2 linked regions of the Homo sapiens genome follow. The protein of the gene in region 2 purifies or fractionates together with the protein of the main gene of each other region. This does not show direct contact. Each region holds a gene or a part of one and is shown on either strand. Other genes may lie near its edges.

Region 1 (5,364 bases), on a different chromosome or scaffold from region 2:
GATATAGAAGCTGTAGTAAACTACCTAGAAGATGTAGCTAACATCATTCATGAAAGTAGCTACACTAAGCAACAGACTTATTTTTTATTTATTTATTTATTTATTTTGAGATGGAGTCTCGCTCTGTCACCCAGGCTGGAGTGCAATGTGCAATCTCAGCTCACTGCCACCTCCGCCTCCCGGGTTCAAGCCATTCTCCTGCCTCAGCCTCCCAAGTAACTGGGATTACAGGCTCCCACCACCAAGCCAGGCTAATTTTTGGTATTTTTAGTCGAGATGGGGTTTCACTATGTTGGCCAGGCTGGTCTTAAACTCCTGAACTCGTGATCTGCCCATCTCGGCCTCCCAAAGTGCTGAGATTACAGGCATGAGCCACCGAGCCCGGCCAGCAACAGATTTTTAATGGAGATGAAATGGCCTCCTTTTGGAAGAAGATGCCATTTAGGACTTTCATAGCTATAGAGAAGTCAATGCCTGGCTTCAAAGATTCAAAGGACAGGCTGACTCTCTTGTTAGAGGCTAAAGCAGCTGGTGACTTCAAGTTGAAGCCAATAATCATTTACCATCCTGAAAATTCTAGGGCCATTAAGAATTATGCTAAATCTCCTCTGCCTGTTTTCTATAAATAATAAAGCCTAGATGACAGCACATCTGTTTACAGCATGGTTTATTTTAAGCCCACCATTGAGATCTACTGCTTAGAAAAAAAAAGATTCCTTCAAAATATTATTGCTCATTGACAACACACCTGATCACCCAAGAGCTGTGATGGAGATGTACAAGGAGATTAATGTTGTTTTCATGCCTGCTAACACAACATCCATTCTGCAGCCCACTGATCAAGGAGTAACTTTGACTTTTAAGTCTTATTTAAGAAATATATTTCATAAGGCTATAGCTACCATAGATAGTGATTCCTCTGATGGATCTAGGCAAAGTAAATTGAAAACCTTCTGGAAAGGATTCATCATTCTAGATGCCATTAAGAACATTCGTGATTCATGGGAGATCAAAGTATCAACATGAATAGGAGTTTGAAAGATGATTCCAGCCCTCACAGATGACTTTGAGGGATTTCAGACTTCAACGGAGGAAATAACTGCAGATATGGTGGAAACAGTAAGAGAACTAGAATTAGAAGGGGAGTCTGAAGATGTGACTCAATTCCTGCAATCTCATAAGAAAACTTTAACTAATGAGAAGTTGTTTCTTATGGACGGGAAAAGAACGTGGTTTCTTGAGATGGAATCTACTCCTGGTGAAGATGCTATGAACACTGTCAAAATGACAACAAAGGATTTAAAATATGACAGAAGCTTAATTGATAAAGCAGGGTTTGAGAGGACTGACTCCAATTTTGAAAGAAGTCATACTGTGGGTAAAATGCTATCAAATAGCATCATGTGCTATAGAGACATCTTTTATGAAAGGGAGAGTCAACTAATGCAGCAAACTTCATTATTATCTTATGAAATTGCGATAGCCACCCCAACCTTCAGTAACTACTACCCTGATTGGTCAGCACCCATCAACATTGTGGCAAGACCCTCTACCAGCAAAAAGATTATGACTTGCTGAAAGCTGAGATGATCGTTAGCATTTTTTAGCAATAAATATTTTTAATTAAGGTATGTATGTTTTTTAGACAATTCTATTACACATTTTATAGACTACAGTATAGTATAAACACAGCTTTTTTTTTTTTTTTTTTTTTTTAAGAAATGGGGTCTCATGCTGTCATCCAGGCTGGAGTGCGGTGGTGCAATCATGACTCACTGCAGCCTCAAACTCCTGAGCTCAAGTGATCCAAGTAGCTGGGACTACAGGCCTGTCACATCACACCCGGCCAAAACGCATAACTTTTATATGCAATGGGAAACAAAAAAATGTGTGTGACTCACTCTATTGTGATATTCAGTTTACTGCAGTGATATGGAACTAAGCCCACAATATCCCTGCGGTATGGCTGTACAGTATAAGAATCACCTGAAGGGCTTATTAAAAACAGCTTGCTTGACCCCCTCCCTTAGAGATTCCGATTCAGTAGATCTGGGTTGGTCAAGAATTTGCATTTCTAACAAGCTCCCAGCTGAGGCTGAGGCTGCCATTCAACATACTACCAAGTAGCACTGGCATAGAGAGATCCCTGGAATAAAATTTACCTACTTGTGTGTGTGTGTATGAATGTGTGTGTGTGTGTGTGCGTGTGCATGTGCGTGTGTGTGTATACAGTCTTGCTCTGTTGCCTGGGCTGGAGTGCAGTGGCGTGATCTCGGCTCACCATAACCTCCGCCTCCCAGCTTTCAAGCGATTCTCATGCCTTAGCCTCCTGAGTAGCTGGGATTATGGGGTGCGCCACAACGCCTGGCTAGTTTTTGAATTTTCAGTAGAGACTGGATTTCACCATGTTGGCTAGGCTGGTCTTGAACTCCTGGCCTCAAGGGATCCACCTGCCTCAGCCTCCCAAAGTGCTGGGATTACAGACATGAGCCACCATGCCCAGCCCTTACTTGTATATCACAATAGTGAGATGATTACTTTTCAACTTTCTTCTTTGTATTTTTTAGGTATTTAAATTTTTTTACAATGAATGTTCCATCTTTACCCAAACAATAAAATCTTTATTGTAAAGAAAGTTAGAAGCAAGAAACATTAACATTTTTTATAACTACAATTTGTATAAAAGCTTTCTCTGTGATCTTTAGTTTTTCTTTCTTCCTCTGAAAAGCTGAATAGTGTTTAATTAAACTCTCAAAAGTATCAAGTTTTTGTCTATAAAATGGCAAAACTGGCTATGATGAAATAAACTGATATTTGCTATTTCTAATAAAAGCATACAATATATTCTTTCTTACCAGATTCAAATAATATTTAACGCCAACATATTAGTCCAAGTCCTATCATCAGTCAGATTTATCAGAAAGGTATGAAAACCCATGCCTACTATAAGGACCAAAATAGCCTAATTCAATACTACTTTGAAAACATGGGGATGATGTTACTACGTAATTGTTTTAAGTACAATAACCACTGATCACATTTGAACTCTCAGGATACTTCAATATTTCTTTTGGACAACTATGACCTGTTTAGTAAATTACCCCCAAATACTTTAATATAGTTTTACAAATCGCCCCAATGCCAGAGACCCAGATCAAAAAGAAAATAATGGTATGGGTCAGATTCACAGAATAAGCACTAACTTTTATGCAAACTGAAAATAAAGATTTTATCTAAAAGTTATTTGGGGAAAATAAGCAGACTTTATCAAGAATTAGAGCTTGGTAAGAAGGTAACAGAAACCCATTGTGAGAAACAGGTTGACTCTGTGTAGCTTTCCATAGTAGAGTTTAGAGTTTCTTGTCATGATTACCTTATCAATGCAGTATAATAACTACTTACACAGCACTTACATTGTATTAGGTATTATAAGTAATCTACAGATGATTTAAAGTATATGGGAGGATGTGCATAGGTTATAGGCAAATACTACACCATTTTATGTAAGGGACTTGAACATTAATAGATTTTGGTATCCTCAGAGGTTCTGGAACTAATACGCCATGGATGCCAAGGGACAACTGTACTTAGAAGTAGAACGTCTCTGCTCTTCCTACATGTCCTTATTTTTAACAACTTCTGTTCTTACAAATAATCCTAAATCAATCAATAAAACTTCCAATTCTATTAACAGCTTAAAAGCACCAAGAAATACTCTGATCATTCATTCAACTGCCAAAGAAAATGACAAACGAGTACTTTTCCTCTTTTAAACCAAAAAAAGTTTTTGGTTTAATACTAACAAAAGCTTTAATACTCATTTTAGATATTCCTCTAATACATCTATTTACAATATATCACAGAACTATATTCTGGTTATTAATAATCTCACTTCTTACCAGGGTCTGCTAATCCAGTGGTCTCTAACAGTATGTCATCAAATTTCCCCTTCTTTTGCATCAAATTCTCAATAGCTCTAAGGCCATTGTCCCTGGAGAATACCAAAACATAATTTACAGTTAATTACCTAAATATTTTGAAGTGATTATTATAAACACTTTAAAATGTATTCAACAACCCGAGACAAAAGTATCCTTAGGAATGTGAAAATTTAACTCACTTCTAACCTTCTAACAAAATGTCTGTCCCATATTTACCAGTGAGAAAACAATAGATGCATATATATAATAGGTAAAAAGAAATCATATACATAATAATACTTTATTAAAATTAAAAGCAGAGGAAACTTTATCTGACCAAGTATCTTTTTATAGCTTTATGAAATTTTTAAAAACCAACATACAAAATAATGATAAAATTTATTAACTATAGTAGTTTAATATAATAGCTAAAGGGACACTGATATTAAACACCATATAATTCTATTTTACATTAGGATGCAAGGTTTTAAATTCCTTTTTTCTTATTTTATCAAAAGTGAAGGAAAATCCTTAATAGATTACATTTTGGTTGTTCAAGAAAGTCTGTTATAATTTTATCCTTGCCAAAACATTTGACACAAAGTCAAATACCTAAGGGAGTAAATGATGCCGAAGAGATTTAATTCACTAGAATACACAAAATTAACAATACAAGTAGTCATTTTTATAATTCATTCAACAAATATTTGAGTGCTACTATGTGTTGGGTAACTCTTCTAGGGTCTATGGTAGACTAGTGATCACTGTCCTTGGAAACTTAACTACTAGAACATAATGTAAGGTTTTTCTTTTTTGATAGTCATTTATTTTTTATAAGGTTGAACACTTAGAAGTATGACCAATGACAGATTAAATTCAGAATAATCATTTTTTACATATGAGACTTTCATGCACTAGAGATTAAATAAGCCCTGACATCAAAAGCAATAAAAACTCAATAAAAGGACCAAAACATTAGAGCAGATAGAAAAGACAGCAAGAAACACTTTAAGAAAATGCTTCCTAATAAGTTTATTTTCTATTTGTTTGAAAATACAATGAAGCAAACTGTGTAAATTCAGTTAAATTACTCAAGAAAATTAAAGCTGGAAATATAATCAATAAACATTTCTAGTAAACCATGTACACAGTAAACACATTCCTCACTTCACTGAACAGCAGAGGCAACCGTTTCTAAGTTCCAGCCACTCTTCATAGAGCTCTCCACCTTGGCTGACAGCTAAGGATTTCTCCAGCGCACTTCCTAGAATAAATAACAAACAGCACTCTTTAGCTTATGTCCATTAGCCAACAAAAAACAAAGATGAGGATAACTCAATAATGGAGATCTTAAAGCAGAAACTGCATTTTATAACTTATATTCTTTCACTTTATTCATGCAGCCTTGATACCTAAATTACAGTACACTACATTATTTTAGCTT
Region 2 (5,364 bases):
CATGTGTAGTTTCTATTAAATTGAAGCAAAAGAATCAGTCTCATTAGAGAAAAGAATAAAAAATTACCCACCACTTTTATTAAATCATTTGGTTTTCATCCAGCTGTATAATATGTGTGATGCAAATTAAAGACCCCACAATTTGATAAACCTAAACTGAGATAAAAGCTTTCTAGTCTTTTATAGGAAAGTTTAAAACATTTACAATTGTTAGTAAGCTGCAAAAAGTTTACTAGCATTTCCCATAATCACTGCTATTCTTGTGATGGTACATCATTGGTAATGACACTACTAAGATAAGAAGTTACAGTATTACAGCTTAGGAACATATTTCCAATTTTTATTAAAATTATTAAGTTCTTCCTAATATGTTTATGACACAGGGTCTGATGTTCCATCCAAATACATTTATAAAATTGTTTTCTTAAAGCACCTGGGGTAGTTACATGACTGGAGAAGATCTTTAAACATGTATAAAGCTGTATGTCTAATAGAATGAAAGGCACCAATTAATCCAATTACTTAGTGAAGACAGTTTCTCCTATACTATATGCACTACATACACCTCACAACCCTATTTGATAAAGGACTAGTATCTCCATTTAAACATGAAAACTGGGTTAGAGAAACACTATTACACATTAATTGGTAGAGTTGAATGTTTTAAATCTTATCTTTGTAATTTCAAAATCCATGCCCTATTTATTATGTCACACTGTCAACAGAGACAGATACATCCAAATGAGGTTTTAAAGGCCAGGTGTGGTGGCTCACACATGTAATCCCAACACTTTGGGAGGCTGAGGCAGGCAGATCACGAGGTCAAGAGATCGAGACCATCATGGCCAACACGGTGAAACCCTGTCACTACTAAAAATACAAAAATTAGCTGGGCGTGGTGGCATGCACCTGTAGTCCCAGCTACTTGGGAGGCTGAGGTAGGAGAATCACTTGAACCCAGGAGGTGGAGGCTGCAGTGAGCCAAGATCACACTACTGCACTCCAGCCTGGCCAAGTGGGACTTTGTCTCGAAAAAAAAAAAAGATAAAGAAAAAGATAAACAAAACAATTTAGGGGCCAGCATTTGCTTTGGACCTGCTCTAATACAAATGTTATTAGATCAACCCTTTTCACCAAAGTATTCCTACTTTCAAGATCAGTTTCCTAAATAGACCTCATAACTAATGAACAGAGGATTTCTTTTTTTTTTTTTTTTTTTTTTGGAGAGAGTCTTGCTCTGTGCAATGGTATAGTCTCAGCTCACTGCAACCTCCACCTCCCAGGCTCAAGCAATTCTCCTGCCTCAACCTCCTGAGTAGCTGGGACTACAGGCACAAGCCAACACGCCCGGCTAATTTTTGTATATCTAGTAGAGACGGGGATTCACCACGTTGGCCAGGCTGGTCTCGAACTCCTGACCTCAGGTGATCCACCTGCCTTGGCCTCCCAAAGTGCTGGGATTACAGGCATCAGCTACCATGCCCAGCCAAAAGGATTTTTAATTTGAGCTTCAGGATTTCATACCTTGAAATCATTTCAAATTTTTGTGTGCTTGCACGTACTGTGCATTTCCATGAGGAAGAATTCATTGGTTTTTATCAGTTAATCAAGGGAATCTATGACTCCAGAAATGTTTAAGAATCTGAGGAGAAAGGAAGAAATATAGTCTTTAGCTCTGTTAATAGGTGTGCAATTTTAACAACATTCTAAGTGAGCATTATTCTCTCACCTCCACAAGTTTGTGATGCACATGTTGTTTTCTCTGCCCTTCATTCCTTCTCTCCACACTTCTGCCTACCACTTCCACTGGGCTAATTCCTTCTCATCATTCAAGACTCAATTAATGTGTCCCTTATTCTAATCTAAGACACCTTCTTGAACTACGACCACTACCCCCAGGCTGTCAGGGAACCGTTCTCTGGCCTCAGAATTCTGTGTACAACTCTATGTTGCCTGAATGATAATTTTCTAGCTCTATTTCTCCTCCACTAGGATAGGAGCTCCTTGAAGGCAAGGACTTTTTATAATACATCTGTGAATTTCCAGAGTTTAGCACAATGCTTGATGCATAGAAGGTATTCAGTATAGTTTTGAATAAACAAGTAATTTTAAAAACAAATAAAAATCCTGTGAAACAGAGTGAGACCTTGCCTCTACAAAATATTAAAAAATTAGCTATGCGTGGTGGCATGTGCCTGTAGTTCCAGCCAGTTGGGAGGCTGAGATGAGACCATCACTTGAGCTGGGAAATCAAGGCTGCAGTGAGCCATGATCATTCTACAGTATTGCAGCCTGAATGACAGTGCAAGACCCTGTCTCAAAACATAAATAAATATACCCAAAGCAATTCTAAGCAAAAACAAACAAAAAAAACAAAGCCAGAGGCATCACATTACCTGACTTCAAACTATACTACAACACTACAGTAACTAAAACAGCATGGTACTAGTACAAAAACAGACACAAAGACCCATGGAACAGAACAGAGGAAGCAGAAATAAAGCTGCACATCTACAACTATCTGATCTTCAACAAAGTAGACAAAAACAAGCAATAGGGAAATGACTCCCTATTCAATAAACAGTGCTGGGATAACTGGCTAGTCACATGAAGAAGATTGAAACATATACAAAAATCAACTCAAGATGGATTAATGACTTAAATGTAAAAACTAAAACTGTAAAAACCCTAAAGAAAACTTGGGAAATACCATTTTGCACATAGGCCCTGGCAAAGATTTGATGATGGAGACATGAAAAGCAACTGCAACAAAAACAAAAATTGACAAGTGTGACCTAATTAAACTAAAGAGCTTCTGCACAGCAAAAGAAACTATCAACAGAGTAATCAGACAACCTACAGAATGGGAGAAAACTTTTGCAAACTATGCATTCAACTAAGGTCTAATATCCAGAATCTATAAGGAACTTAAACAAATTAACAGGCTGGGCGTGGTGGCTCATGCCTGTAATCGTATCACTTTGGGAGGCCAAGGTGGGCAGATCACCTAAGGTCAGGAGTTCCAGACCAGCCTGGCCAACATGGCAAAACCCACCTCTACTAAAAAACACAAAAATTAGCCAGGCATGGTGGTGTGTGCTTGTAATCCCAGCTACTCAGGAGGCTGAGGCAGGACAATCACTTGAACCCAGGAGGCAGAGATTGCAGTGAGCAAAGATTGTGCCACTGTACTCCATCTTAGGTGACAGAGTGTGACTTTGTCTCAAAAAATAATAAATAAAAATAATAAAAAGCGGGCAAAGGAGATGAACAGGCAGTTCTCAGAAGACATATATGTGGCCAACAAGCAATGCTCAGCACACACATACATGCGGCCAACAAGCATATGATAAATGCTCAACATCACTAATTATTGGAGAAATGCAAATCAAAACCACAGTGAAATACCATTTCACACCAGTCAGAATGGCTATTACTAAAAAGTCAAAAAGCAACAGATGCTGGAGAGGCTGCAGAGAAAGGGGAACACATACACATAGTTAATAGGAATATAAATTAGTTCAGCTGCTGTAGAAAGCACTTTGGAGATTTCTCAAAGAACTTAGAACTACCATTTGATCTAGCAATCCCACTACTGAGTATATACCCAAAGAAATCTAAATTGTTCTACCATAAAGACACATGCACACATACGTTCATCGCCACACTATTCACAATAGGAAAGACATGGAATCAACCCAAAGCCCATCAACAGTGGACAGGGAAAAGAAAATGTGATATATATATATATACATAAAATAAATCCCCGCTCTACAGAAGCCATCAGCAAATATTTCTTTACACAAGCAACCACATCTATAATTCTCATGATAGCTATCATTTCCAATAACCTGTCTTCTGGACAATGAACAATAATAAATACTATTAATCAATTTTCATCCTTAATAATAATAACGGCCCTAGTAATAAAACTAGGAATAGCCCCCTTTCACTTCTGAGTCCCAGAGAGGACCCAAGGAACTTCTCTAATATCTGGCATACTTCTCCTTACATGACAAAAACTAGCCCCTATCTCGATTATATTTCAAATTTTCCCATCAATAAACATGAACATCCGCCTATCTATCACAATCCTATCCATTATAGTGGGCAGTTGAGGAGGACTCAATCAAATACAACTGCGAAAATCCTAGCCTACTCCTCAATTATTATATACATATATACCACAGAATACTACACATAAAAAAGAAAGCCATATAAAGAAACAAGATCATGTCCTTTGCAGCAACATAGGTGGAGCTGGAGGCCATTATACTAAGGGAATTAACGCAGGAACAGAAAACCAAGTACCGCATGTTCTCACTTATAAGTGGAAGCTAAACACTAATTACACATGGAGACAAAGAAGGGAACAAAAGACACCAAGACCTGCTTTAGGGTAGAGAGGGGCAGGAGGGTGAGGGTTGAAAAACCACCTGTTGGATACTATGCTTATTAGCTGGGTGATGAAATAACCTGTACACCAAACCCCAGCAACATGCAATTTATCCATATAACAAACCTGTGTATGTACCCCATGAGCCTAAAATAAAAGTTGAAATGGAATAAAATAAAAATACAAACATACATAAATACATAAATAAAGTAACACAGCCCATAATAGTAATTTCTTCCACAAAGCCAAGACACAGAGATTCATCTATTACTCCTGAAAGAAAGACAAGCAAACTGTAATTATTGGCAGGTTGTTTTTGATGTCCCTTCCCCAAGAGATTTATTTCTATAATATTTTTCAAAATATTTATTTAGGAATTGACAATCTTATATAAAAGTTTTCAATCCTATATAAAATTTTAGAAGTCTTTTTGTGTTTCATTGCTTTGTTTTCCTTCAGATGACATGAAAGTACACTTTTTTCCAAGTCTGTTTAGAGACTCAAAAGTATACACCCAACAGTTCTTAAATACATATGACAAATAAAAACATCTTCCTTTGAAGTTTTAAAAAAGAGAAATTTGTTTTATGGATCCCATTAAATAAATGAGGAATATAAAAAGCAAAGATTAGCATATTCCAATATGGTGAACACTATCAATGAAGTACTGCAAGCTTTTAAACTTGCAATAATTTTTATAATGAGAAACATCAAATTCATCTAAGAATGAAATTTTTCCTTAAATCTGTATTAAAATTAATACTCCATTGCTGAAATTTAACAACTAATAAAAATACTCTGAAACTCACATAGAACTGTGCTGTTCTTAAATGACTCAAAGAGAAAGCTGTGATTTTATTTAGAATATATATGCAAAATATTCACATCCTCTGACTTTCTTAATATATATAGATCTTTAGTAGCTTTCATTGAAAGTGACACTGAGCCACAATGCTGAAACTGAAGCA

Evidence for each region. Proteins that work in one complex are often made in the same cells at the same time.
Region 1: the proteins of AGBL4 (region 2) and ZNG1C purify together in Homo sapiens (affinity purification with mass spectrometry; one large-scale study listed by BioGRID and IntAct). This does not show direct contact.

The regions. Positions count from the first base shown.
Region 1 is NC_000009.12:68,247,433-68,252,796, reverse strand, and holds part of ZNG1C (zinc-regulated GTPase metalloprotein activator 1C), read right to left. Parts: intron 5,185-5,364; coding exon 5,088-5,184; intron 3,992-5,087; coding exon 3,900-3,991; intron 1-3,899.
Region 2 is NC_000001.11:50,013,337-50,018,700, forward strand, and holds part of AGBL4 (cytosolic carboxypeptidase 6), read right to left. Parts: intron 1-5,364. UniProt on the Homo sapiens protein: Metallocarboxypeptidase that mediates protein deglutamylation of tubulin and non-tubulin target proteins.